2 linked regions of the Homo sapiens genome follow. The protein of the gene in region 1 binds, or shares a complex with, the protein of each later gene. Each region holds a gene or a part of one and is shown on either strand. Other genes may lie near its edges. The genes, in order: TIMM23 and TIMM17A.

Region 1 (15,181 bases):
TCTATTTTTAACACTTTGAGAAACTGCCAGACTGTTTCTAAAAGCAGCTGTATCATTTTACATTCCCACCAGCAATGTACAGAGGTCCAATTTCTCTACATCCTCAACAATACTCATTATTTTCTTTTTGATTATAGTGATCCCCGTGGGTGTAAAGAGGTATCTCATTGTGGTTTTATTTCTCTAATTAATGTTACTGACCAGCTTTCATGTCATTATTAGACATCTGTATATCTTCATAGAGAAATGTCTACTCAAATCCTTTGCCCATTTTGTAATTATTTTTTATTAATGTTTCAAGAGTTAAAAAAATTAAATATTCTAGATATAAATTCCTTATCAGATACATAATATGCAAATATTTTCTCTCAGTCTGTGGATTGTCTTTTCCCAATTTTTTTCCTTTTGAGACAAAGTCTCTCTCTGTCACCCAGGCTGGAGTTAAGTGGTTTGATTATGCTGAGACTTGACCTGCTGGACTCAAGTGATCCTCCCACCTCAGCCTCCCTAGTAGCTGGGACTACAGGTGCACACCACCACACCCGGCTAATTTTTGTATTTTTTTGGAGAGATGGGATCTTCTTATGTTGGCCAGGCAGGTCTCAAACTCCTGGGCTCAAGTGATCCTCCCGCCTCAGCCTCTTAAAAGTGTTGGGAGTATAGGCACGAGCCACTGCGCCAGGACTTTTTCCATTCTTTATTTATTTTTTTATTTTTTTTTTGAGACCGAGTCTTACTCTGTTGCCCAGGCTGAAGTGCGGGTGGCGCGATCTTGGCTCACCGCAACCTCTGCCTCCCAGGTTCAAGTGATTCTCCTGCCTCAGCCTCCCAAGTAGCTGGGATTACAGGCGCCCAGCACCACGCCTGGCTAATTTTTGTTTTTTAGTAGAGATGGGGTTTCACCATGTTGGCCAGGCTGGTCTCGAACTCCTGACCTCAGGTGATCTACCCACCTCAGCCTCCCAAAGTGCTGGGATTACAGGTATGAGCCACTGCACCTGGCCTCCATTCTTGTTGGTATTGTCTAAACCACAAAATTTTTAAATTCTGATTAAATACAATTTATCAACTTTCTTTTTACCACTTGTGCTTTTGGTGTCACATCCAAGAAATCACAGTCTAATCCAAAGTCACAACTACTTGTGCCCATGATTTCTTCTAAGAGTTTGACTGCTTTAGTTTACATTTAAGTCTTTAATCCATTTGGTGGTAACATTTTGCATATGGTGCAGGGTTAGGGTTCAACTTCATTCTTATGCATATGGATTCCAGTTGTCCTAACGTCTCCCCTGACTTAACTATCTTGGCATCCTTGCTGAAAAGCAAGTGACTGCATATATTGTAAGGTCTTTCTTCTGGACTCTGTATTTCATTAACTATGGATTTATTCTTATGTTACTATCATGATGTGGCTCTGTAGAAAGTTTTGAAATTGGCAAGTTCAAGTCCTCCAATCTATTTTCTCAAGGTCATTGGCCATTCTATGTCCCCTGAATTTCCATATGAATTTTAGGATAAAAGCTTGTCAATTTCTGCAAAAAAGCCAGCTGGGATTTTGACAGGCACTGCACTAAATCTGTTGGTTAATTTGGTGAGCACTGCCATTTTAATATTAAAATTTTCAGGATCATAGCATGTGTCTTTCCACTTAATTTCAATAATGTTTTATAGTTTTCAGAATATGTTTTGCACCTGGTCCATTTATTTCTAAGTATTTGCTTTTTGATGTTATTGGTAATCAACTGTTTTTTGTAATTTCATTTTTGTAGTGTTCATTGCAACTGTCTAGAAATATATTTGATTTATGTATATTGAACTTGTATTCTGCAACTTGCTGAACTCGATCATTAGTTTTAACAGATTTTTGTGATTTCCCTTGTGATTTTCTATAGATAAGATCATGTCATTTGTAAACAGATAGTTTAACTTCTTTCTCAACTTGAATGCCATTTAACGTACTTGACTAATTGCCCTGGCCAGACAATGCTGAATATAAATGAGAGTAAATATACTTATTTTGTTCCTGATCTTAGGGAGAAGGCATTCAGTCTTTCACCATTAAATTATGTTAGCTTTGGATATTCTGTAGATGGCATTTAACAGGCTGAAGTCCCTTTTATGTCTAGTTTTATTTATTTATTTAGAGATAGGGTCTTACTCTGTTGCCCAGGCTGGAGTGTAGTGGGGTGTTCTCAGCTCACTGCAACCTTTGTCTCCAGGGTTCAAGCGATTCTCGTGCCTCAGCCTCTCAAGCAGCTGGGATTACAGGTAGGCACCACCACGCCTGGCTAATTTTTGTATTTTTAGTAGAAACAGCGTTTTGCTATGTTGGCCAGGCTGGTCTCAAACTCCTGGCCTCAAGTGATCTGCCCACCTCAGCTTCCCAGAGTGCTGGGATTACAGGTGTGAATCACTGCGCCCAGCCTAGTTTGTTTTTATAATCATTAAAGGGGGTGTTGGATGTTGTCAAATGATTTTTGTGAATCTATTGAGATAAGCATGTGGTCTTTGTACTATATTCTTTCCTTGATTGCTTTATTATAAATTGATATGGCACAATACATTAATTTTCAGATGTTAAATCAACCTTGCTTTTCTAATATACCCAAGATATATTTCCTAATATATCTTGGATTCAAAAAGATACTCTTTGAAACTTTTGATGCTTAGTCAAAAAAACCCTGATATTGTAAACTGAGCTTTAAAACACACTTTGCCTGTAATCCCAGCACTTTGGGAGCCTGGCCAACATGGTGAAACCCCGTCTCTATTGAAAACACAAGAATTAGCCAGGCGTGGTGGTGGGCGCCTGTAGTCCCAGCTACTTGGGAGGCTGAGGCAGGAGGATGGCCTGAATTTGGGAGGCTGAGGTTGCAGTGAGCAGAGATCGCGCTACTGCACTCCAGCCTGGAGGACAAAAGCAAAACTCTGGCTCAAAAACAAACAAACAAACAAACAAAAAACCCCACACACTTTGTAACTAGGCATCCCAATACTTTTATTGGGGTGCTTTCAAAAATTAATTCTGCTCTGGTTTTAAAAAATAAGCTTTTGAAGGGAGTTAACTGGTTTCAGAGAGATGCAGGCCAAGCTCCTGGTGTTTGTGAGGAAAAAAGGGTGAATGGAGACCAGAGACTTACTGCCTCCAAAAGTGTATGTCATAGTTCAAGTCAGCATAGCACTTGGCGTTTTTTTTAAAATGGTAAAATAATGCACCAAACTAGTAAAATCTTAATCTTACCTGCACGAGGTATCGTGGATCCACATTTAAATAAGGAGACAGAGGGTTCATACCAGTTACTAGAGAGAAAACAAAATGTCACATTGCAACAAAATTCTTTAAGTTAATCCAGTTAGAGTTAATCCAGCTCCTGACTGTTACATGTGTTTGCAATTTTTATAGGCTCACTGAAGGCGGAAAATTTTTTCCCATTTTATCCTCCCTATCTGTCAGTTTGGGGGCTGACTCATCCTGAGACCCTCAATCCCAAACCAGGTCTTCCACTGGTGGCTCAGGCTTTTACACCAATAAGATAATTGCAGTGTCATAGATCTGATTTTTGAACTTACAGGAAGTGTAGTCCAGGCCATTTACAAAGCTAATTTCTTTCACTTTACTCCAAGAATGCTTGGTGACTATGTAAATTACAAAATAAGACTGAAAAAAGACTAATCAATTCCATGGGAAAAACAGTGGTTGGGTTGGGTTTTCTGACTGTGTACATGTTGTATCTAACTATTTCAAGGCAGTTCCTTCACATATTACTATTAACGATTGATTTACTGTGGCAAGGTTGAGAATCCTTGGGTCATTACCACAGGTATGTGGGTCTGTGCAAAAGAAAACACAAACTTTGAGAGGGCCAGACCTGAATTCACTAACATTGAAAACAGTAAAACCTATCATCTTTGGATCCTTCTGTATCTCAGCAGTTATTTACAAACCTATGCATCACCCATGCCTCTATCTTTTCATCAATTAGGAGTCCTGCTTGTTCTATTTTTAATATCTATTTTGAATTGTGTTACTTATCTTCTCTATTGCTACCATCCTAGTCCAACCATCATATCTCACAGCAACAATTTCCTAACTCCTTGCTTTCTCTTACCCCTTCAATTCACTGTCTACATAGCAACTACAGTGATTTGTCTTAAGAAAATCGAAACTCCTTACCATAACTTACAAAATCCTACATTAGCTGTCATTCCCTACCTCTCTGATTTCACAAACTTCAATGGATCCAACTCCCTTGTAACTACGAAGACAGACTGGCCTAAGAGCTGTTCCTTAAACCTGCCAAATTTGTTTTGTTTCAGGACATTTGCACTAGCTATTTTCCTGGATACTTGCCTCCCAAGCATTTGTACTGTATTTGGGTCACAGCTCAAATGTCAACTCCCTTGAGATGTTTTCCCTAACCGGCTCTAAAATGGCATCCTGCTTCCATCACAATCTCAAGACTCTGCTTTATTCCCTTTACAGCACTTATCACTAACGGCAATGTTTTAATTTATGTTTGTTGGTTTACCTCAGTATTATGTAAGCTCTGTGAGCGCAAGAGTCCTCTTTTCAAAAAAAAACAAAAAAAACCCCCACAAAAACCACTATAGTCCTGCCCCCAGAAAAGTAGCTAGCACACTGTAAAAGCTCAGTAAATGGTGTTCATTCCCTGGTCCCCCAATTTACCTTCAAATCTTAATCAAATTAATTTAACAATATTGTCACATTAAGGAAGTGTATATGCCCTTTGTGCTCTGAAACTCAGAGATACTAAGATTAATATGAAACTGTGTTCTAAACAGGTAAAGTAGTAGCTCAGGCCTAGGAATCCCAGCATTTTGGGAGGCCGAGACAGGAGGATGGCCTGAGTTCGAGAGTTTGAGACCAGCTTGGACAACACAGGGAGACCCCATCTCCACAATAAGTCAAAAAAAAAAAAAAATTAGCCAGGCGTGGTGGTACGTACCTAGAGTCCCAGCTACTTAGGAGGCTTAGAGGGGAGGATTGTTTGAGCTCAGGAGTGCGAGGCTTCAGTGAACTATAATCATGCCACCGCACCCCAATATGGGTGACAGAACGAGGTCCTGACTCTAAAAACAAACAAACAAAAAAACGAAACAAAACACCATGTGTTGTAGATTCAGTTTTTTGACAAAGGTGACACCAGGGAAATGAAAGGTCTTTTATATTTTTTTGCACTACAGTCTGAACATATTTCGTTGTTGTTGTTCCTTAGTATAAAATACCTAGAGAAATATTACAAGGATTCTCTAAAAAGAAAGTACTTTCGTAAAGGCTTTATCCACGACCAACTGCCTATCTTTAGGTCCAAGTTGTATTTATCTAGTTGAACAACCACAGTTACAAAGTACCAAAGTTCTGGAAAACATTTTCACAAGACCGAGGAGAGGCAAAGGCAAGATATTTATGCCTCTGTATACCTTGATGTTGCCTATTTCCGTTTCTATAATTCTTACCTGGCTTCTTTCTTCATGTCTATATATCACCTTTAAAGTTCAGCTTACTTCCTAGCTCCTAAAGAAGGTTTCCTAGCCTGTCCCAAGTCATTTATTTCTCACTTACAAACAATATTACTGAATATTCTGCCCTGACGGCTACTTGGAGGCTCAGAATATGTCGCTGTGTACTAAAAAGTTAACTACGGGCTTGCTATTTGGAATACATTTACTCCCAAAGCTCGGCTCTACTCTTAATCAAGGGTCAATCACACGGCCCACCACACACAAAACGTAGGAGGCTTGGATATAAACCTAAGAAAACATGCATCATCTCGCGAGTCCAGGTCAATCACGGACAGCTTCCCCAGGAGATCCGTGGCCCTTTTTTAGGCCTTTCTATCTTGAAAGAGCAGCCATGCAGATACACTAACCCCACCACTGGTACTTAAGCTTGTAAATGCCAGCAAGGAAAAAAAAAACAACAACATAAAACATGGGACGCGCAACTTAGTGTAGACGCAAAAACCAGTCAGAAATAATCGCAAGCTAGGCCCCATACTTACGCGGGACGCCAGCCAAATCCGCGTGCGAGTAACCTGCTCCGCCGGCTCCGAAAAAGCCGGCCAATCCCCCTGTGGTTTTGTTGCCGCTTCCCCCGCCTCCTTCCATGGTATCGCAGCAAACCGAGTGGTTCCCGCCGCTGCCTCAAGCCTGGGTGGTCCGCTGGGCCGTTACTCCTCAATAACAGCGGGTAACCCCGCGTTGCCAGCGCCTACTTCACACGCTGACCTTCCGGGCGCCGGTTCCCGTTAAGCGCCACACTTCCGCTTTGCGGCAATGTGCGCCCCGGAAGCTGGAAGCGCCTGACGGCAGCTTTCCGGTGGTGGGAAAGTGAACGAATCCCGAATCAAAGCGGCGCATTGAGGCAGGTGGGGTGCCAGTGGAAGAGAGAAAGCAGGCGAGTGTTTACGGCCTGACTTGGGAGGCCGGCGGATCAGCAATTGCAGAAGCAGGCAGCGGCAGAGAGGGAATGGTGCAGGCAGGCGCTGAGAAGGACGCGCAGTCCATCTCTCTCAGGTTAGTGAAATGAGGCTCTCCGCCCGGGGCCGGCCCGGGGACAGTGCGCTGCTGGTCCCAGCATGAATGCGGGCCCCGGCTGTGAACCCTGCACCAAGCGACCCCGCTGGGGCGCCGCTACAACTTCGCCGGCTGCTTCGGACGCCCGGAGCTTTCCGAGCAGGCAGAGGCGCGTCCTCGACCCCAAGGACGCTCACGTGCAGTTCAGGGTCCCACCGTCCTCGCCAGCCTGCGTCCCAGGGCAGGCGGGACAGCACAGAGGCAGCGCCACCTCGCTTGGTACGTGGGAAAATAAAAATCTTTGTCCTTCGCCTCGGCCCGAACCTTCTGGTCTCAGGGACTCCAGTCACTCCTTTCTGGTCTTGTGTGCATCATCACTCTGAGGTCCACTTGCTGAGCTACCAAAGCCACTAGTGGGTGAATGGGGCCGCATTTTTCCCAGTGCGATTGATGTGAGAAACTCTGATGAGCAGTCACTCACAGGGCGGAAAATGGCAGGAGACTCCACCACCTGTTTGCTTCTTCAGGTTTGATTGAGAAATTGCCTTAGTCGTCAAGGAGATCTAATTGTGTATGTAAAACAGTAGGGCGCTTCAGCCTCTAGATAGGAAGAAAACAACTTCACTTGTGCAGATTCTGGGTCCCAGGGTGCAGAGCTATTAGTCTAAGCTGGCATTGTACCCGTCCCTGGTATACAGTGTTGAATGAGAGAAACTTGGCCTCTGCCTTCATACCTTAAAATCTATCTGGAGAGATAGACGATAGCAAAAGTTAATATAATAAAAGGTAATGGATGTTCTGATAGATGAAAGACAGATTGTTTTACCTAACTGAATTTATGGAATCGAAAATAGTCCTCCAGAAGATGAGATGCTTATTCTGAGGACTGTAGAATGAGTAGGAGTTAGATGAAGAGGAAGTAAGAAGTGTTTCAGGAGTGCAATGGAGGCCGGGCGCGGTGGTTTTGCCTGTAATCCCTGCGCTTTGGAAGGCCGGGGCGGGTGGATCACCTGAGGTCAGGAGCTCAAGACCAGCCTTACCAATATGGTGAAACCCCGTCTCTGCTAAAAACACAAAAAATTAGCCTAGCGTGGTGGCGGGCAACTGTAATCCCAGCTACTCCGGAGGCTGAGGCAGGTGAGGCAGGAGAATCACTGGCATCCGGGAGGCGGAGGTTGCAGTGAGCCGAGAGGGCACCATTGCACTCCAGCCTGGGCAACAAGAGCGAAACTCCGCCTCAAACAAAACAAAACAAAACAAAACAAAAACAGGAGTGCAATTGATATATAGAGTGAACGCAAGAGAGTGTGAGAGATGAGGCTGCAGGGTGGTACAGAAAAGTCAGATCAAATTGGATATGTAGACATTGCTAAGGATTTTGAACTCTAAGGGCATTGATAAGCTACTCAAGGGTTTTTAGTAGGGGAGTGACTTGATTAGACTTATTTATTTGTTGAAAAGTCTGTGTGGCTGGTGTGTGGAAAATAAAGAATGGATTGAAAAGGAACTCAAGTGGAGCATCAAGACTCAGTTAAGGAGTTAATCTAGGTTGGAAATAATTGTAGCTTAGGCCTGGATGCTGGCAATAGGGAAGGGGATGGATTCATGAAAGAATGGGATACTTGAGAAGAAATATTTCTGTGCTGGAGAAGTAGATTGGGGAGTTCATGGCATAAACATTATAATGGATGCTATGGGCATAGATAACATAAACATGTAGAGAAAGTAAAGGTGACCTAGGGCAGAAGCCTTAGGAACACCAAAGTTTAAGAGTAGACTGAAGAGAAGCGGCTGTAGAGGTGGGAGGAAAGCCTGGCTCGTGTTGTGTCAGACAAAGGAGAGCATTTCAAAAAGGATGCATTCATTAACAGTGTAAGAGGCTGGGCAGAGCTCGGGCAGTTCTCTGGTGAAGAGTGTACACTTAGATGTCTTCGAACTTAGGGACAGTACCAAGTAGACTTGCACTAGGCCTTGAAGGATGAGGAAGATTTGCTGTATAAATCAAGAGGAGAAAGAATTATACACGCAGAGGGAATAAGACATGCAAAAGTTGGTAAGACTGGAGCATAAGATGACAGAGGAGTGTCTGATGAGGCTGGGTGGCAGACAGGAGCTTATGAAGAAACTCAAATTCCATTTTAAGGAATTTCAACCTTATTCTGTGGTTAATGGAGAAACCACTAAAAAGCTTTTAAGCGTGGGAATACCATTTGGTTAATATTTTAGAAAAGTGGCTTTTGGACTTTCCTAACTGCAACCCACAGCATAAATTTTATCCAGTACACAGAGTAAGAAATATATGTAACCTGGCAAATAAGCCATATTTATAACTGAAATAAATGTTTCATGAAATAATACTTAATCTTTCTATGTGTGATGCATTCTTATATTGTCTGTGTTATTTCATTGAAAAATGACTGGTCATTTGTAGTTTGTAGAACACTGGATAGTCAAGGCTGTAGACAGGGAGACTAGTTGCAAGAAACAAATGGCAGTTGTCTAGTAAGCGATGTGTTTAAAGAGTATGAGGAAGGGATGGATTTAAAATTTAGGATGTAGATTTCAGAGAACTTGGTATAGGGGAGAGGGAACTGAAGGTGAACTTCAGGTATATGTTCAGGTGTACTTCAGCTTCTGTGACTGGATAGTTTGTGGTTTCATTAACCTTATTTGCATGTAAAGGAGGAGGAGTTAGTTGCAAATAGGGGTGAGGGCAGTCAGTCCTCACTGGTTGGATCTTAATTAAGATTTCTGCAGAAGAGGTACCAAATGAATACTTGGGGCTGTATTTCGCATGTTTAAATGTTTTCTGTATACCTGGCACAGGACACCAATTAACAGAATGTTCAAAGACTATATTTGTATCAAAAGCCCATTGTTTGAATTTTTGGGATTCCTTTAGGAACTTGGTATTTAAATTTTTATATATAATTATCTTAGGACAAGTAGGCGGGGTAGCGAAATGGATATTTATTCAGTATCTTTAAATTTTATATTCTTTATCTTCCTGGACATATTTCTTGTATTGACTGAAATCGCTAATTTTGCTGGGCATGCACCTGTAGTCCCAGCTACTTGGGAGGCTAAGGCAAGAGGATCACTTGAGCCCGGGAGTTCCCGTCCAGCCTGAGCAACATAGCGAGACCCCACTTCTGAAAAAAGAAAAAAAAAATCTGCAAACCTGCATATTGGCAGAACTCAGCATGTTATTCACATTGTGATGACGCAGGTTTATCCAGATGTGTTGCTATAGACTTTTTGTGAAAGTGGAATGTTCCTTTGACATGCAGGTGAATTTTATTGCATTTTGTGCCTTTTGGCTGTATCTATAGCTATTAATTGAATGACTTGCTGATTAAAATATACTGGGTACTGAATAATGTTGCTGATGAGAGTAAATGTAAATGGTGTGAAGTCAAAGTTGGAGAATTATTGATCTCAGTGGAAAAAAAAAAGACTGGGTGGAAATGTCGAGAGATAACATATTGAGTGCTTTGTGAGGCTGAACACAATATTTTCTCTAATTTTTGCTTTGTAATTGATCCACATAACCCTTAGAAGTAGGTGTTGTTAGCTTCATTTTCTGGGTGAGGAAATAAAGGCTTAACGAAGTGATATTGCAAAGAGCAGTAAGCAGTCCTTTCTCTGAGGCCCTAAGAAGGACTGATCAATGTTTTATTAGCAGAAGATACTGGTTCCTTACCTCTTGCTTTTCCTCCTTCATCCCTTCCCCAGGCTTCAGGAAGCCTGAAACTGGAGAGAGAACACATTCTCAGGGTCAGGGCTACGGGAGAGAGCTCTCTTCTTCTTTGCCATCACTGGAACACTCCTGGTTTTTCATGAAATGATGTGTGCGGTCTTTAGGTTCTTTAGACTTATCACGGGAGTACATGCTTCGTGTGTGTTATAGGAACCTAGTCATTGCATCTTAACATTAATCCTTACATTTATGGAAAAAAGATGTTTTAACTTCTAAACCAACTCAAAAAATGAATGTTTTGGCATATTACTGGTTTGTAATTTGAGGATTTTTTTTTTAGTTTTTGAGACGGAGTCTCACACTGTCGCCCAGGCTGGAGTGCAGTGGCGCGATCTCCGCTCACTGCAAGCTCCACCTCCCGGGTTCACGCCATTCTCCTGCCTCAGCCTCCCGAGTAGCTGGGACTACAGGCGCCCGCCACCACGTCTGGCTAATTTTTTGTATCTTTAGTAGAGACGGGGTTTCACCGTGTTAGCCAATCTCCTGACCTTGTGATCTGCCTGCCTCGGCCTCCCAAAGTGTTGGGATTACAGGCGTAAGCCACTGTGCCCGGCCCAATTTGAGGATTTTCTAAACTATACTTGCTGTATTTGATATAAAGAAAATAAATAGAGAATACAGAACTGTAGAAAAAATTTCAGAATCAAATGGTTTATCCTCTTACTCCCTCTGACTGAAGCTCATTTTTTCTCTGAAGCCTGATCTGCTGCAGAAATGCTAAATAAAATCGTGGAAGTAATGGTGTTTAACAATAAGAAATCACTATGCGTGATTACTTTTTTGTGATAGAAACTATTTTTGAAACATTAATCAAAGATTTTTACTAGCTGGATTATAAGTATTTTGTGGAAGGTAAAGATTATATAGCAATTGAATATTTTTCTGGTATAAAATTCTCCCCATCTGAAATGTATTTCGATTATGCCATTATTTCAATGAAAAATAAACCATTGATTTTCGTATATTTGGCCTGCATCTGTTTTGCTCCATATGGTGTTTGAGGAGAGGTAGGTAAATAAGAAAGATCCTGTGACTTAGGATGCTAAGATTCTTACATTGCAATTTAGTGAGTATCTCAAATCTTAAACATTTGCGAATGTTTAAGATTTTATTTCTGATACTAAAATATGATGTACATTTAATCCCTATTCAGTATGTTAAATTTTGACAGCATACTTATTTCTAATGATTATATAAAATGTGGCTTGTATTTATTTATATTTAATCTCCCTCTCCTGAGCTATCAATTCTACTTTTGCTACTGTCTGCTGGTGTGTTGGGAAGGAAACCTTAGGAAGCCAGAAGTAGTGATATGGTTTTCTATCTAGTTACTTCTTTGGCATCTCAAATTTAGTATAGGCAGAATTGACCTAATCGTATTTCTTCCCTAAACACAATTCTCTTGTATTCCATATTTCTACTTAAGGCTGTCATCACTTTTCAAGTCTCTCAAGCTCAAAGCTTAAAGTCACTTTTAACTTCCCCTATTATTGTGAAGTCTGTAATGACTCTCCTCACTTTTACTACTCTCACAAGGACTAGTTTATGTTCTTGGCAAGTAACTGTTCAATCTAGTGGATCATCAGAATCACTTTTGGAAAAAAAAAAAATAGATTCCAGCTCCCCTCATGCCTTCATCCTACTCACATATAGATTCTGATTCAGAAGGACTGGGGTGTGGCTGGCTTCCTGATGATCCAGATAGTTTGGGAACCACTGACCTGGACTAGTAGCTTCCTCCCTAGTTTCTGGCAATACGCTCTTCCCTCTTGCCCCTCAAATTTATCCTCCAGGCTGTCATGCATGACTGTGAGCCTCCTAGATGAGAGGAATCATGTCTTTCAACACGTTTTTTGTGCTTCTCTTTGTGGGTCATTCAAGATCCTATTGTATGGTATGATCCTGGCTGACTTTTCAACCCTATTTTCTTTTGCTTTCTTTTTAAGTTCTTTATATTTCCCTGATATTGGTGCCTTTGCTTATAATTTTCTCTTTATGTGACTGCATGTTTACTTTTCAAGGCATAAGTCAAGCCTTACCTTTTCCGAAGAAATCTTACCGATTATGCCCATGTTCTCCTGTTCACTGAAGTAGTGTCTTCCTCAGAAATAACCTTAATTCCTTTATCAGGACCTCTTTTAATAATCATGATAATTAAGAATCAACATTTACTAAGCGTAAACCAGATAATGCCCTAAATGCGTTACATGAACTATTTTTACTTAATTAAGCCTTATCTCATGAGAGATAGTTATTTTGCATGTTTACAAATGAGGGATCTGAGATACAGAGAAATGACCCCTCACAGAGTAACATAGGAAGCTAATGGGAGAATCAGGATTTGAATGCAGATGTTCTGATTCCATAGCCTATGCTCTTATCCATTAGGCCATACCAACTCTTTTAGGCACCAGTCATTTTCTACCCTGTGTCATATGTATTAACATTTATGTTCCTGTCTTACCCATATACTTGAGGGCAAATACTTGAGTTATTAATCTTTTGTTTAACCCGTAGAACCTAGCATAGTTCCTTGCATGTACAATATGCTGTATATGTTTTCTATTGGAAGGAATGTATGAATATACATTTTTTTTATAGTTTTCAAACAAAAAACTATTACCAGTTGGATGGACACTGAAGGAATCAAGACAGCGGAATCAGACAGGTATAGAAACATTCCTATGTAGAGAAATGAATAATAATACATGGATGTTTTATCTTGTTGCTTTAATATTTTCTCTCTTTGTTCATGCTTTTCTGTTCTCCTTTATCTATGTTAATTCAAAATCAACTTATAAGTAATTTTTTAGAGAGTCCTGTGTGCCAGGGACTGTCCTGTATACTTGAGATACCGAGATGAGAGAGGAATAGTCCGTGTCTTTTTTTTTTTTTTTTTTGAGATGGAGTCTCACTCTGTTGCCCAGGCTGGAGTGTAGTGGCGTGATCTTGGCTAACTGCAAGCTCTGCCTCCTGGGTTCACGCCATTCTCCTGCCTCAGCCTCCCAAGTAGCTGGGACTACAGGCGCCCACCACCACGCCTGGCTAATTTTTTGTATTTTTAGTAGAGATGGGGTTTCACCGGGTTAGCCAGGATGGTCTCGATCTCCTGACCTCGTGATCTGCCTGCCTCGACCTCCCAAAGTGCTGGGATTACAGGTGTGAGCCACTGCGCCCGGCCAGTCTGTGTCTTTAAGATACTTACAGTGTAGCAGTGGCCACAGACACAAAAACACATAATTACTGCCTGGTGTGATAGATGCAATAGTAAAGGTATGAGCAAGGCACAGTGGTGGTTAGTGTGTAGAAGAAACAAATGTTCAACTTTACCTTTGGTCCCTAAAGGAAGACTGCACAGAGAGGTGAGTGACATTTATGACTTGAAGGAAAGGCGGGTGTTTGCCAGACACACAGCTGCAGGGAGGGCATTAGGGATCACATACAAAGACATGGAGTCATGGAAGACATGCTGTGTGCTCAGCTGACCACAGGGAGTTTAATTACTGCTGTGACACTGGAGGTATGATTGGATAAGTGACTTGTTTGTATTATAAGTTGTTTTTAGTTCCTTCTGTTCTCTTGTAGTTTGGATAGTAAAGAAAACAACAATACAATAATAGAATCCATGATGAGTTCTGTACAAGAAGATAACTTTTACCAACATAATGTAGAAAAATTAGAAAATGTTTCTCAGCTAAGTCTTGATAAGTCACTCACTGAAAAAAGTACACAGTATTTGAACCAGCATCAGACTGCAGCAATGTGTAAGTGGCAAAATGAAGGGAAACACACGGAGCAGCTTTTGGAAAGTGAACCTCAAACAGTAACCCTGGTACCAGAGCAGTTTAGTAATGCTAACATTGATCGGTCACCTCAAAATGATGATCACAGTGACACAGATAGTGAAGAGAATAGAGACAATCAACAGTTTCTCACAACTGTAAAGCTTGCAAATGCAAAGCAGACTACGGAAGATGAACACGCCAGAGAAGCCAAAAGCCACCAGAAGTGCAGCAAGTCTTGCCATCCTGGGGAAGACTGTGCAAGTTGTCAGCAAGATGAGATAGACGTGGTGCCAAAGAGTCCATTGTCAGATGTTGGCTCTGAGGATGTTGGTACTGGGTCAAAAAATGACAACAAATTGATTAGACAAGAAAGTTGCCTAGGAAATTCTCCTCCATTTGAGAAGGAAAGTGAACCCGAATCACCGATGGATGTGGATAATTCTAAAAATAGTTGTCAAGACTCAGAAGCAGATGAGGAGACAAGTCCAGGTTTTGATGAACAAGAAGATGGTAGTTCCTCCCAAACAGCAAATAAACCTTCAAGGTTCCAAGCAAGAGACGCTGACATTGAATTCAGGAAACGGTACTCTACTAAGGGCGGTGAAGTTAGATTACATTTCCAATTTGAAGGAGGAGAGAGTCACACTGGAATGAATGATTTAAATGCTAAACTACCTGGAAATATTTCTAGCCTGAATGTAGAATGCAGAAATTCTAAGCAACATGGAAAAAAGGATTCTAAAATCACAGATCATTTCATGAGACTGCCCAAAGCAGAGGACAGAAGGTAATTTTCTGTCAGGAGTATCTCTCCAATAGCATAATATGCTTTATAGTTTTGTAAGGGAGTTTAACGAAGCTATGATTTCTAGTAAAGCAAAGAAATGGTTTTGTTTCTTGTTAACTACTTATGCTAAATTTAAACCTAGGCTCCAAAGTTTAAACTCTAAAAAGGCTAGAAACAGAAAACAAGAAATAAAATAAATATTAGAAATCAGATTTTTAGTTTCATGAGTTTCCTTTTGGTATTTATGGGAATTACTAGAACATGAAAATACTAGGTTGATAGTAGCTACTGTTTCTTCAGCCAGACATTCTT
Region 2 (15,519 bases), on another chromosome or scaffold:
ATCATCAGTTCTGAAGCATTAAAATCCTTTGCCAACAAGAACGTTTCTTCTAAGGAAGGAAGCATCCTAATCATGAAGCCAGGGTCTCCAGCCCTCCCCTGTCTCCCTCCTCCCCTCCAGGGCTGTGCTCACTCACATCCATGGACATCTCCCTCTGCATAAGTTTCTTGGTCTCCTTTTCACAGAAGTTGAGCATGGCCTCCCGGTTGTACACACCCGTGGACTGTTTCTCCGTCTGGTTTCTCTGCCGCAGCCCCACGGGAACACTCCCGTCTGGGTCCACCACGTCCAGCTCCTTCTCCAGCTCCTCCATCTCCTCGGGAGACAGGGTCTCCAGCAGGCTGTCGATGTCGGGGTCTTCACTCACCTGCCGGCGATATTTGGCTACTCTAGACATCTTGGCAAAATGGGCTGTGGCTGCCAGGGGCTATCAGAGTCCTGGTGGGCAGGGAAGGGAGAGGGGTGAGCTGATCTGGATGCAGCGAGTGGGCTGAGGAGCAAACCTCCTGCTGGTCGAGGACTGCAGCTCCTTGGCCCTTCTGTGCTACAGGTGCTGAAGTGTTCACTGGACGCAGCAGCCTCCCTGAAGCCCAGGGCTAGTGGACCCCGGCTGGTCTAATCAGCGGCCAATAAGACCCGACAACTGCCAGGCCCGGAGAGGAGAAGCCAATCCCCAAGCTGGGGGCGGGCCTACCTCGCTGTCAGAGCTGTTTGAAACTTGAGGACATTCCAGGGAATCTTGGAGCGCTGCGTGACCAAATTTAGTACAGAGCAGTTTAGCCTTTTAAAGACAAGGGGCCACGCAATGAGAAAAAGATACAAAAATGCGTAGGCTGGCAGAAGCAGATCACAGCCACGGAGAGCCAGACAAGCAGGGACGAGGCCATGAGGGCCGGTGAACTCGCCAGCCCGGGGCACGTTCAAGAGCGTATTTTACTACTCCATCACCGGGTGGACGTATCACTGTGGTCAATGTGTGGTTCATGGACTTCCTTCTACAGTATTTGGTAATGTGCTGGGGGGCTCCCAGGTGTATACAGCTCCAGGAAAGTCTAGATTCAAGATGAGGAGCTGTTACTCCTAACCCCCTGCCTACCCATTTTCTTTCTACCCAGGTTCTGCCAAGGAGGACCTGAAGGCTGAGCATCAGAGGCTCCAGGATCCTTTGGCCACTTCTTAAGAGAGAGACAGGAGACAGAAAGACAAACTTAGAGATAGAGATAGCTAGGCAGGAGAGGGAGAGAGAGAGAGAGAGAGAGAGAGAGAGAGAGAGAGAGAGAGAATAAATCCTTACTGTGTACCAAAACTGAAAACTGGCAGGCTGTTTGGGAAAGAGAGAAGGATCTGCAGAAGTCGGGAAACTCTTAAAGGGCTGTCACTTTCCATGAAGTTCCAAGGCTCTTGGGAAGAGGGTTCAAACCTCCCCCTGTTGTCATCTGTTTCTTCCTCTGCCGGGCATCTGTAGACAGACCTCCTTTGGGAGCACAGAGGCAGGTCACCACCCACATATAAATCCAGAGCACGATTTAGTATGTCTTCAGGGAAACAGAATTCTGGGCCGTCGGGAGAGATACGATTGCAACAGGTCTGGCATGTTTCATAGAAGGGCTTTCCACTGCTCATCCATCATGCTGCCCTGCACAAGTCACAGAGACATTCAATCCCCTGCCCCCCTTCCTCCTGCCACAAAATCCCTTCTAGAAGCCCTGGTGTAACCCATCAGGGTAGATGCTTCGATCTTTCCTGGCATCTTTCCATCCTAAGCCAGAGAGAGACAGTCACTTGATCAGCATTTGCTGAGTCCAGGGATCGTCTGGGACTAAAACTTGGCCGTGCCATTTAATGTCCACTAGTCCAACTTTAGGTTAAGGCTGAAGAGGGGAATGGTGTCCACTGGGGGGACTGAAGGGCAGAAGGAAGGCAGGCAGACTTGATAGGAAGAGTGGAAGAAGACTTTAGGGAAACCTGGGGGTTGTCATTTTAAGAGTCAGTAGCCAACTTATTGGTCAAACCGTAGGTATATATTTATTGAGTGATTTATCAAGTGCCTATTATATATCAGGCATTGTTCTAAGAGCAAGAGATATCACTAAAGATACAAAATCAGGCCAGGTGCAGTGGCTCATGTCTGTAATCCCAGCACTTTGGGAGGCCAAGGCAAGAGGATTGCTTGAGTCCAGGAGTTCAAGAACAGGCTGGGCAACATAATGAGACCCCCATCTCTCCAAAAAAAAAAAAAAAACAAAATTAGCCTGATGTGGTGGTGAGCATCTGTTGTCCCAGCTACTCAGGGGGTTGAGGTGGGAGGATTGCTTGAGACCAGAAGGTTGAGGCTGCAGTGAGCTGTGATCACGCTACTGTACTCCAGCCTGGGCAACAGAGTAAGACCCCATCTCAAAAAAGAAAGAAAGAAAGAAAGAAAGAAAGAAAGAAAGAGCGAGCAAGCACAGGGGCTATGGGAAAACACAACAAGAGGAGGCTGAATAGAAGTATGATTTAACAGTGAAGAGCTTGGGCCTTTGAGGCCAATAGACCTGTATTTGGTCCTGGTATTGCTACTTACAGGCCATGTGACTTGGGCAAGCTACCTTCTTTTCTGAGACTTGAGTTCATCATCTGTAAAATAAGGACAACAGTTATACCAACCTTATACAATTGTTGTGAATATTAAATTAGGTCCTACACATGACAACATTTCATTGATATACCCAGTACATGGTAAACACCATATTTATTATTAATTATTATAATTATTTATTTATTTATTTATTGGGAAACTCTGTTTCACTCTTATTGCCCAGGCTGGAGTGCAATGGCGCGATCTCGGCTCACTGCAACCTCCGCCTCCCGGGTTCAAGCAATTCTCCTGTCTCACCCTCCCAAGTAGCTGGGATTACAGGCATGAGCCACCATGCCCGGCTAATTTTGTATTTTTAGTAGACATGGGGTTTCTCCATGTTGGTCAGGCTGGTCTTGAACTCCTGACCTCAGGTGATCCACCTGCCTCGGTCTCCCAAAGTGCTGGGATTACAGGCGTGAGCCACAGCGCCTGGCTATAATTATTTATTTACTCTTGTCCTGGGTTCTTTTCTTCCCATCCCACCTTTTCTCTCATCTTTTTATTTCTTTCTCTCAAGAGTAAACACCCTCTAAACACACACACACACACACACACACACACACACACTTTCTCACCTGGTTCTCATTCATTCATTCAAACATTTATTCAGATACTACTATTTATATATAGCATCCTGCCAGGCACTACAACATTGTCATTACAACATTGTTATTCTCTTAAACATGTATAATTCAATGGGGTAAAAAATAATAATAACTACACTGTAAGGCAAAGTGAAGCAAGCTAGAGAGGTACAAGGAGTCTTGCAGAGAGGTCCAACTGTTAAAAAACCCAGTGGAAGACACATTAATTTTGTGGGGAGGAGTCAGGGTGGTCATCTCAGAGGGCATAACAAAGGGTTTCAGCCATGCTGGAGTGGGCTTTTAGTTAGGTATGTTGGGTGGACATGGCACTCCCTATGCCCATCCCCTCCCCCTGTACCCCCTTTGGGTCAGCTGGCCTTCACCCTCAGTGTTGCCCAGAAAAAAGCATCATCTTCTGGGGTCCCTGGCTCTAGGACCTCAGCCAACCTCTAGCCTCCCAGTCAGCTGAAAGCAATTCTCTTTCTAGTTTCCAAGGACTCTTTCTCAGGCTTTTTGCCAAAAATATTCACTGCTCCCTGAGGAGCAGTCAGGGCCTAAAAGCAAATCACTACCTTCAGCCCCAGGGTTAGCCCTGTACCATCTGGTTTCAGTGGTTTTCTTTTTTGGGCCCAGTGGTCTCTGCTCCAGGAAGACACTCAAAAAAATAAATCCATAGCTTTCAAATGTAAAGGGCAGGACTCATGCCTCCTAACCAAAGGTTTCTACACATTAACCCCAGTATCTTCTCTGTGTCAGGTCTCCCAATTCCAAATCGCTGGTTCTTCTGACATGACTCAGTCAGAAGCTTTTTACTCCCTGGAGCCCCAAGAGCTCCCTGACACTGCTCACAGACTCCAAAAGTCTTCCCTTGAAAGGCATCACAGCTGGAGCTGGAGGATTTGGGAACCCAGAGGCCAGGGAGTACAGCCACCTCCAGCCCCTACAATGAGAGGCCACTGCCCGACCCACTCTGTAGGGAGCACTGGTTGTTCCAGCTCAGAATCAACTTCCACCTGAAACAAATCCATCCTGGGTATCAGGACCCTGGCCGTTGTCTATTCCCCAGAGAAAAACAAGCACTGTTGTCGCTAGAGGGATGGGGAGAGAAAAGAAGGAAAAGAGACTCAAAGCTCCAATCAAAATGTGGTGCAGGGCAGGAGGGAAGAATGAGGATCCAGAACCAATTTAATTAATGCTTAGGTGGCTCTCAGTTGGGCTGAATGACCCCAGGAAAGTCACATTTTCAGGAATATAGGGTGGCAGTATAGTATAGCAGATAAGACTACAGGCTCTGGAGTCAAATGACATGGGCTCAAATCTGAGATGTGTGACCTTAAGTAAGTTATTTAACCTCTCTGAGCCTTAGGCAATGGAAAATGAGGATATTAAGAGCATCTACGAGCTGGGTGCAGTGATGTGTGCCTGTAGTCCCAACTACTTGGGGTGCTGAGGCGGGAGGGTTGCTTAAGCCCAGGAGTTTGAGTCCAGCCTAGGGAAAATGTGAGACTCGTCTCTAAAACAAAACAAAACAAAACAAAACAAAACAAAACAACAACAAAAAACCAGACCGGGCATGATGGCTTATGCTTGTAATCCCCACATTTTGGGAGGCCGAGGAGGTGGGATGAATGTTTGAGGCCAGGAGTCAAGATGATCCCAGGCAACAGAGTGAGACCCCATCTCTTAAAAAAAAAACCTTGTCCAGGCACAGTGGCTCACATCTGTAATCCCAACACTTTGGGAGGCCAAGGTGGGCTGATCACTTGAGGCCAGGATTTTGAAACCAGCCTGGCCGACATTGCAAAACCCCACAAAAACTAGCCGGGTGTGGTGGCACACACCTGTAATTCCAGCTACTTGGGAGGCCGAGGCACAAGAATCACCTGAAGCTGGGAGGCAAAGGTTGCAGTGAACCAAGATCATCCCACTGCACTCCAGCTTGTGACACAGTGAGACTGTCTCAAAAAATAATAACGAAAATAAAATAATCTAAAATTTAAAAAAACCCTAATTCATAGTTATGGAATTATTGAGCATATTAAATAAGATAATGCATGCAAAGTACTTAACAGCATCGGACATATTTTAAGCACTCACTGATGCTTGCTATATAGTTAAATTATATAGCTATATGTATGTGTATATACATGCAAAGATCAGGAGATATGCTGACATAGAATGACTATGGCAGGGTCCTGAAAGAGACCACAAAAGAGAGAAGTTTTCACACTGGTTCTTTCCTTTTGGGGGATGCTGACAGTTCCCCTAGAAGGCAGCAGACTTTGCCTCTGGGAGCAAGCCACTGGCCTGGCCCAGCACTCCTGAGATGAGCAGAAATGGGCAGAGGAGAGCTCAAGACAGAGCACAGGCCAGACTAATGTCTTCCTGAGAGGAGAGCAGTGGGAGGAAAAAGGGGGCAGCAAAGAGACAAGAGATTGCCTCCTTCACCTCCACCAATGTTACCTAAGCTAAAACCCCTCTGTCTACCAAATCAGCCCTGGTCACAAACTAAAACCCAAACCCAACAGGAGGCTTACTTATCCACGCCAATCTGAATTTCTCCATGACATGGACCAGGTGGGACTGTGGGTTTGGTGCCATGTACATGACCTGTGACTTAGTGGATGGAGTTCCTTAGGCCACAGCAGCCTCTGGCTCAATGAAGCTTGATCTACTGAGTACCTGGACCACATGGGGCTCTAGCAGCAGTCCTATCTTGAGCCCAGAACAGTAACTTTCAATAGAATATACACTGGTATGTTGAATCAGAAGTTCAAACGCCCTTCACCTTTATGGTGACTTTTCTCTCAAGGACCTCCACTGCTTTCTTCTACTATGCCTTCGTATCATTGACCATTCCATCAGTGAGGGCCACCACAGTCCCTCAGAATTCTTTAAGACTAACTAGGGGGAGATTAGAGTACCAATCCTTCTAAACCTTTCAAAAGGCTTCTTTTGAACCCTTTTCAAAAGATTTCTTCACTTAGCACCCTGGAACCAAATGGAAGTGAATATTTTTGAGAAGACGTGACATCTTTCTCCTGGGCCTTGCCCAGCCAAAAATGTTCTGTTATCTGTTGCAATTAAAAGAGAGCAAAGAGTAAGAAGTCTCTTTCCTTAAAGTTTCTTTGGCCACTTGAGCGGAGCTTCCCAGAGCAGTAAACTCCTTTAGGATAGGGACTGTTGGAATTAAATGAGCTGGGGAACCACAACCTAGAAACTGGACTTCAGCTTTGTAAACTCCGAAACTCATTATCACTGTGATGGTTAATTTGATGTGTCAACTTGAGTAGGCCATAGGGTGCCCAGATTAAATGTTGTTCTGGGTGTGTCCATGAGGATGTTTCCAGATGAGAATAGCATTTGAATTGGTAGACTCGGCAAAGTAGATTGCCCTCCTCAGTGTGGCTGGGCATTGAAAAGGCCGAAGAAAGAATTTGCCCCTCTTTTCCTGCCTCACTATTGAGCTGGGATATCTCATTTCACCTTCTCCTGCCCTCAAACTGGGATTTACATCATCAGCACCCCTGGCTCTCAGGCCTTTGGACTTGGACCAAACTGCATCACTGACTTTCCTCCATCTCCAGCTTGCAGACACAGATTATTGGACTTCTCAACCTCCATAATCATGTGAGCCAACTACTCATAATAAATAAATAAATAGGCTGGGTGTGGTGGCTCATGCCTGTAATCCCAGCACTTTGGGAGGCCCAGGTGGGCAGATCACGAGGTCAGGAGTTTGAGACCAGCCTGGCCAATATGGTGAAACCCCCATCTCTACTAAAAATACAAAAATTAGCCAGGTGTGGTGGCGCACACCTGTAGTCCCAGCTACTCGGGAGGCTGAGGCAGAAGAATCACTTGAACCTGGGAGGCAGAGGTTGCAGTGAGCCGAGATCACGTCACTGCACTCCAGCCTGGGCAACAGAGTGAGACTCCATCTCAAAAATAAATAAATAAATATTAATTTTATGTATATATATATATATATATATAGAGAGAGAGAGAGAGAGAGAGAAACAGAAACAGAAGGATATATATATATTTGCACACAATAAGATATATATATGTGTGTGTATATATATATCCTCTTGGTTCTGTTTCTCTGGAGAACCCTGACTATTCCTGGTGATTTAGTCAAAATAACTGATCTCACAAGAGGCAGATACATAAGCCAGTATTAACTACCAAGTGGAGAAGAATAGTTATAAACACAGGCCAGGGTATTCTCTTCTATATCGAAATCTATTCAGAAGCCAAATAAGAAGAAGAAGATTGCATAATAAATATGGAATAAGAACAAAGGGAGGTAGCTAGAGCTAGAGCTAAGGGATATTTTATCTGGGTCCTGGTGAGAGTGCAAATCTCTAGTTACTAAAATATTTATACCCACCAGGTCTTCGGTGCTGACTAAATGTCAGATTCCTGCCCTCTGAATTCCTCCATGTCCCCTCTCCCACATTCTCTCTTTGGCCTGTACAATTAAATAGAGTTAACTATTCTTAATTACAGTCACATTCTGAACACGTCTTCTCCACCTTACACACCCAAATCAGATAACTAGTATGAACCATTCTCACGTGCAAGACACATTTATTGATAATCTTTAGTTCCATGGAGGGTTCGATTCATCTGCTTACTTTATTTCCAAGCTTTTGGAGAGACCCTCACTCCTCTTTGCAGTCTTCCTTTATTTATTTATTTATTTGAGGTGGAGTCTCGCTCTGTCACCCAGGCACAATCTTAGCTCACTGCAACTTCCACCTCCCACGTTCAAGCCATTCTCCTGCCTCAGCCTCCTGACTAGCTGGGATTACAGGCAACACGCCAGGCTAAATTTTGTATTTTTAGTAGAGACGGGGTTTCACCATGTTGGTCAGGCTGGTCTCGAACTCCTGACCTCGTGATCCGCCCGCCTCGGCCTCCCAAAGTGCTGGGATTACAGGCGTGTGCCACTGCGCCCGGCCTCTTCCATTATTTATGACATTGACTTTTCCGTAAAATAAATATATACATATTTTTAAAGTTAATTACAAACGTACAGAATGGAGAGGAGCACTTTAACAGCCATCACATGATTGGGATTTTGTTGACAGTAAACTAAAAGCTCCATGGGTCCCAACCTTTTTTTTTTTTTTTTTTTGACAGTGTCTCACTCTGTCACTAGAGTGCAGTGGCATGATCACAGCTCCCTGCGGGGTAGATCTCCTGGGCTCAAGCTATCTTCCCGCCTCAGTCTCCCGAACAGTCAGGGCTACAGGCACGTGTCACCACGCCCGGCCTGGTCCCCATAAGTCCCCTCTTCTCCGAGCCAAACATCTTCACACCTTCTGGTGATCATTAGTGGAGAGGCCTGTGAGAGGCTCTGGTGTCAATGTCCCTGAAATCGAGGGCTCCAAATTGGTCATGGCTCTCCAGATGGCCCAAACAGTTCCAGTTCACAAACATTTATTGAGCATCTACTACATTCCAGGCACTGTGGTTATTATAAATCACTGAGACACTGTTTGCCCTAAAGGAGCTACGTGTATTTGGTAACAGCTTCACAGTAAGTGACGAATAAGATAGCATTAATCCACATTTGACAGCAAAAGTACCAAAAAAGAAAGAAAGAAAAAGAAGAGAGAGAAAGGAAAGAAAAGAAAAGAAGAGAAAGAAAGAGGCCGGGTGCGGCGGCTCACGCCTGTAATTCTAGCACTCTGGGAGGCCGAGGTGGGCGGATCACGAGGTCAGGAGTTCGAGTCCAGCCTGATCAACATGGCGAAACCCCGTCTCTACTAAAAAAACATAAAAATTAGCCGGACCTGGTGGCGCCCGCCTGTAGTCCCAGCTACTCAGGAGGCTAAGGCAGGAGAATCGCTTGAACTCGGGAGGCGGAGGTTGCAGTGAGCCGAGATCTCGCCGCTGCACTCCAGCCTGGGCGACAGAGCCAGACTCTGTCTCAAAAAAAAAAAGAAGAAGAAAAGAAAAAGAAAGAAAGAAAAAGGATGGAAGGAGAGAAGAAAAGGAAAGGGGGAAGGGAAGGGGGAAGGGAAGGCGGAAGGGAAGGGAAAGAAAGAAGCGTATTTAGGCAGTATCGCGTTGATTTCAGTCCACGGAACCTCTGGTGACCGGGTAGTGTGACTCCGTCATTGGTAGCCCCCCGCCCACACAGCCGGGACTCGCGGCCTTTGAGGACGTGGGCAGGGCCAGTCTCGCCACGCCGCGGCCAATGCCCCGACCACACGCTGGCCACAGGAGTCCTGGCTCCCATTGGCTGCAGCGGGAAATGGTGAACCAATGCTCATAGACCTTAACGCCCTCCTCTCGGGATCACTTCCGCCTCTGGGGTCAGGCTCCGCCCAGCTTGCCCGGCATCACTCGCGGCATTGGAGTCAAGATGGAGGAGTACGCGCGAGAGCCTTGGTGAGCTTCACCGCTGTCTTTGCATTTCTCTTGCCCCCCTGCCCACTGCCCTCCTTCTCCCTTGTCCAGGCTCCCAAGGTGCAAGCCAGACTCAACCGCAGCCTCGTCGACTTGGGCCTGGTAACTGGGCAATGCGGTCTTTCGCGGCCAGTCGGCTTCTTAGCCCTGTACTTAGTACCTCCCCGGCCGCGTGAGCCTCCCTCTCCCAACCCAGCACCCGTGTGACCTTGTGATGGATGGTAAGGAGGTCCAGACTTGAGTTTGATAGAACCTCGGAACCTCCTCCCAACGCAGGGCGTAATCGACTTTATGCGGGGCCAGTTATAATCCCCCCTGTTCGTCGAGGTGACCTTGGGCGCGTCCCTCCGTCTCGCCTTGCTCAGTTCCTGCGTTGAGGAACTGAAGAATAGGCATTTGAGGGAGTGTCATTCTTGAGGTTTTACTTGTATCATGATATGTGTCCACAGAGTGAAGCATTTTAAATGAATGGAACATAGATTTTAGCCAAGGGGTCTGGATAAGCTTCTTTATTGCGTGGGGCCTTGTTTTCCTTCTTGGAATTCTTTCTTGAGGGTAGAGGGGGACAAAAATTACCTGGGAAATAGGAAGAGGTAATAGCATGTGTTCTCTGAAAAGCCATGGACAGAAATTCATTGTTACATCCAGCGTTTATTGAGTATGAATAAACCAGACACATAGATAATTATAAAACGATGTAATTGCTGTCAGAAGTCTCAGGTTGCCAGAGTTTAAAGTTTCTAGGGTCATAGGTAAAAAATCAAATCTTGATATTTCGGTTAATCATTTGTTTTATTGTGTAAGAGCAACAACCAAGATGTCCTCAATTTGTGAAAGTGCCCAGGACCTTAAATTACTACTCTGGTATCCTAGCCTTGTTGCATGTTTTATGTTCCCCTCTCCCATAAATGGCATACAAAATATAAGTTTTAGGGTCTCCTGGCTCTTCAAACTTATCTTCTTCAAAGCAGTTATCCTCCATTCTGGATTGTGCTCAGATATGTAGGACTCAGCACACTGTAAATAGCTGTTTGATGTACTATAATGACACAGGTTAGCAGAGAGTTAAAATATTTAACTATGTTGAGTTAAAGATCTTAGAAAAATAAGGCCGGGTGTGGTGGCTCACGCCTGTAATCCCAGCACTTTGGAAGGCCGAGGCGGATCACGAGGTCAGGAGTTCAAGACCAGCCTGGCCAGTATGGTGAAACCCCGTCTCTACTAAAAATACAAATATTAGCCGGGCGTGGTGGCACGCGCCTGTAGTCCCAGCTACTTGGGAGGCTGAGGCAGGAGAATCACTTGAACCCAGGAGACGGAGGTTGCAGTGAGCCAAGATTGCGCCATTGCACTCCAGCCTGGGTGACAGAGTGAGACTCCATCTCAAAAAAAAAAAAAAAAACAACTTAGAAAAATAATGGGTTTTCATTTACTAAATCATTAGGTAGCCCCTTTGCTTTCTCTTAGTACGTATGCCCTGAAACAATATAATCAGTTACCTGGTTATCTTTGTAGTCAAAACTGCTTTGATTTTTTGACTGCCCTGTTTGATTACAGCATTTCCTCAAGTCATTTTATAGGCCAAATATTTATTGGTTGCAGTGGGCCCTGCAGTATAATCTGTTCCATTATAATCCTTACTGTATTGGCAAAGAAGATTTTATGGTTTGTGAATGAGAAATATGGTCTTTTTTTTCCCCCTGTTCTTAGCCCATGGCGAATTGTGGATGACTGTGGTGGGGCCTTTACGATGGGTACCATTGGTGGTGGTATCTTTCAAGCAATCAAAGGTTTTCGCAATTCTCCAGTGGTAAGTGGGTGAATGGTCTTATTTTATCATCACTTGCAACTTGGGTTTGATGATATTACTGGTGGTCCCATCAGTGGCTTAGAAATGTACTTCTAATATATTTTTTGTTGCTTCCTTTTTTTTGTTATAGGGAGTAAACCACAGACTACGAGGGAGTTTGACAGCTATTAAAACCAGGGCTCCACAGTTAGGAGGTAAGCAGAATTTTCATTTTAACTGAACTATTTTTTTCTGTTCCTTTGAAGATGGAGCTATTTTTATTTTTAGATTACAACAATTAGTGATTTTAGTTTGGTCTAACGGTTTGTCACAAACATATATCCCTATAGTTTCTTCTTGATTTGTAGTTTGTTTGAAAAATTAACCTGAATTATGATACCCATTTGAAAATCTTGTCTCTGTCCTTCAGACACTCGGTGATTTTTTTTTTTTTTCCTTCTCCAGAAGAAAGACAGTTATTTAAAGCTCAGGTGTGAGGCCGGGCACGGGGCTCACGCCTGTAATCCCAGCACTTTGGGAGGCCGAGGTGGGCAGATCACCTGAGGTCAGGAGTTTGAGACCAGCCTGACCAACATGGAGAAACCCCATCTCTACTAAAAATACAAAATTAGCTGGGCGTGGTGGCGCATGCCTGTAATCCCAGCTACTCAGGAGACTGAGGCAGGAGAATCACTTGAACCCGGGAGGCGGAGGTTGCAGTGAGCCAAGATCATGCCATTGCACTCCATCCTGGGCAACAAGAGCGAAACTCCGTCTCAAAAAAAAAAACCTCAGGTTCGTGAGTCAGGACCGATAGCTTCTGAGGTAACATAAAGCTGAAGAGAATGTGATCTGAAGGATTGGGGTTTCATGCAGGAGAAACCCATCAAGCCGATTGGGCTCTTCTCCAAGGTTGGTTTTGGGACATTGTGCAGAGGTCATTGGAAAATTTGAAAAGATTCTATTCATTGTACTTTGTAAACTTGGTTATTCAGAAGCTGGGAAAAGGGAGGTGACAAAAAATGTTTGTAGGTTATATTCACTTACAAAGGTATAGTCAGGGTTGGGCGCAATGGCTCACGCCAATAATCCCAGCAGTTTGGGAGGCTGAGTTAGGCAGATAGCTTGAGCTCAGGAGTTCGAGACCAGCCTGGGCAGCATGGCTGCCCATTTCCCCAGAAAAATGGAAAAATTAGCCAGGTGTTGGGGCATGTGCCTGTGGTCCCAGCTACTAGGGAGGCTGACATGGACGGATCACTTGAACCCATGAGGTTGAGGCTGCAGTGAGATTGCACCACTGCACTCCAGCCTGGGTGACAGAGACCCTGTCTCAAACAGCAACAAAAACAAACAACACAAGGGTATAGTTAGATTGGAGAGACCGTATATAAGACATGAAAAAATCTTAATACTTCAGTCGTTCCTTAGATGTTTTGGGTATCAAAATAATCTTCTCTTTGCTTTTCTTAACTCTCACAGTAATGAAGAAGTTAGTACTATTATTATCTCCCATTTTCCAGATGAGGAAATTTAGTTCCTGAGGGTTGAGGTAATGTTGTATCTTTTTCCTTTGTTCCCTGTGTAAGAATTATCTACCCTGGAAAGTAATTAGTAACTAATTTCTCTTTGTTTTTGTGTTGGTGGTTATTGTGTTATTCAAGAATGATGAGTGGTATTAAAAAGTTCACACCAAACCCAGAACCTCTAGTATATGCAGAAGCCATATAGGTTTTTGCTTGTTTTTTGAGAGGCTGCTTCTATCACCTTACGCATTTTCAGTGAGTTAAAATACCATCAGATAACTGTCACTGCCAAAAGAAGCCTGTGAAGACATAGCAACTAAATTATTAGCTGGGCCCGGTGGTGCATGCCTGTAGTCCCAGCTACTCAGGAGGCTGACGCAGGAGAATCGCTTGAACCCAGGAGGTGGAGTTTGCAGTGAGCCGAGATTGCACCACTGTACTCCAGGCGGGGTGACAGAGCAAGACTCTGTCTCTAAAAAATAAAATAAAAGGGCTGGGCACAGTGGCTCACGCCTGTAATCCCAACACTTTGGGAGGCTAAGGCGGGTGGATCACGAGGTCAGGAGTTTGAGACCAGCCTGGCCAACGTGGTGAAACCCCATGTCTACTAAAAATACAAAAATTAGCTGGGCATGGTGGCACGTGCCTGTAATCCCAGCTACTCAGGAGGCTGAGGCAGGAGAATCGCTTGAACCCAGGAGGTGGAGGTTGCAGTGAGCCAAGATTGTGCCATTGGACTCCAGCTTGGGTGATAGAGTGAGACGCTGTCTCAAAAAATAAATAAATAAATAAAATTAAAAACTAAATGTAGGCCGGGCGCGGTGGCTCACGACTGTAATCCCAGCACTTTCGGAGGCCGAGGCAGGTGGATCACAAGGTGAGGAGAGCGAGACTACCCTGGCTAACACGGTGAAACCCCATCTCTACTAAAAATACTAAAAATACAAAAAAAAACAACAACAAAAAAAATTAGCCGGGCATGGTGACGGGCGCCTGTAGTCCCGGCTCCTTGGGAGGCTGAGGCACAAGAATGGCTGAACCCGGGAGGCGGAACTTGGCAGTGAGCCCAGATCACACCACTGTACTCCAGCCAGGGTGACAGCGAGACTCTGTCTCAAAATAAATAAATAAATAAATAAAAATAAATGTAATGTGGTACTGTGGAACAGAAAAAGGACATTAGCAAACTAAGGAAATCTGAATTAAGTATGGACTTCAGTTAATAGTAATGTGTCGGCCGGGCACAGTGGCTCACACCTGTAATCCCAGCACTTCGGGAGGCTGAGGCAGTAGATTACCTAAGGTCGAGAGTTCGAAACCATCCTGGCCAACATGGTGAAACCCCCGTCTCTACTAAAAATACACCAATTAGCCGGGTGTGGTGGCAGGCACCTGTAATCCTAGCTACTCGGGAGACTGAGGGAGAAGAATCGCTTGAGCCCGGGAGGCAGAGTTTGTAGTGAGCCGAGATTGTGCCATTGCACTCTAGCCTGGGCAACAGAGCAAGACTCTGTCTCAAAAAAAAAAAATAGTAATGTGTCAATATTGGGTCATTAGTTGTGACAGATGCTCCATGCTAATGTAGATGTTGGTAATAGGGAAAAACTGGAAGAGTTTATTTTTTCTTACAAAGCACGGTGAAATAGAGGAAGAGTGAGTGGTGATATGAGTGAATTGGAATTATCCATTTCAAATCCTAGAGGTTAGCCTTTTTTAGGAAGCTATTGAGAAGTTTTTATGGTATTTTAAATTCTAAAAATACTAGGATGATGATTTTATTAATTTGGTGAGCATTTGCTAAGGTATTCAGATCAAGGTGCAGGGAGGGACAGGCAGTATGGGAAAATCATAGTTGTGTTCTGAAAGGTGTTATATTTTCTTTCTTTTTTTTTTTGAGATAGGGTCACCCAGGCTGGAGTGTGGTGGCACAGTCTTGGCTCACTGCAACCTCCGCCTCCCAGGTTCAAGTGATGCTCCCACCTCAGCCTCCTGAGTAGCTGGGATTATAGGCATGCGCCACCACAGCCGGGATAATTTTTGTATTTTTAGTAAAGACGAGGTTTCACCATATTGGTCAGGCAGGTCTTGAACTCCCTACCTCAGGTGATCCGCCTACCTCAGCCTCCCAAAGTGCTGAGATTACAGGCATGAGCCACCACGCCCGGACTTAGGTCTTATATTTTCTTTTTTTTTTTTTTTTGAAACGGAATTTCGCTCTTGTTGCCCAGGCTAGAGTGCAATGGCGCGGTCTCGGCTCACGTCAACTTCCATCTGTCCGGTTCAAGCGATTGTCCATCCTCAGCCTCCCAAGTAGCTGGGATTACAGGCGCATGCCGCCACTTCTGGCTAAGTTTTTTGTATTTTAGTGGAGATGGGGTTTCACCATGTTGCCCAGGCTGGTCTCGAACTCTTGAGCTCAGGCAGTCCACCCGTCTTGGCCTCCCAAAGTGCTAGGATCACAGGCGTGAGCCATCCGGCCCAGCCCAGGTCTTATATTTTCATAGAGAAAATAAGATAGGATTTTGACATGTCCCTGTTACTCTTTGACCACTTTCTTGCATTTTGGAAGAAGACGTTTCA

The links.
Region 2: TIMM23 (region 1) and TIMM17A share a complex: the UniProt entries of both Homo sapiens proteins name them as parts of the TIM23 complex.

The regions. Positions count from the first base shown.
Region 1 is NC_000010.11:45,963,573-45,978,753, reverse strand, and holds the start of TIMM23 (mitochondrial import inner membrane translocase subunit Tim23), read right to left. Parts: upstream 6,266-15,181; 5' UTR 6,130-6,265; coding exon 6,024-6,129; intron 3,301-6,023; coding exon 3,242-3,300; intron 1-3,241. UniProt on the Homo sapiens protein: Essential component of the TIM23 complex, a complex that mediates the translocation of transit peptide-containing proteins across the mitochondrial inner membrane.
Region 2 is NC_000001.11:201,945,944-201,961,462, forward strand, and holds the start of TIMM17A (mitochondrial import inner membrane translocase subunit Tim17-A), read left to right. Parts: upstream 1-9,559; 5' UTR 9,560-9,583; coding exon 9,584-9,609; intron 9,610-11,337; coding exon 11,338-11,437; intron 11,438-11,567; coding exon 11,568-11,631; intron 11,632-15,519. Other genes in the region: LMOD1 (leiomodin-1), read right to left, coding at 137-397. UniProt on the Homo sapiens protein: Essential component of the TIM23 complex, a complex that mediates the translocation of transit peptide-containing proteins across the mitochondrial inner membrane.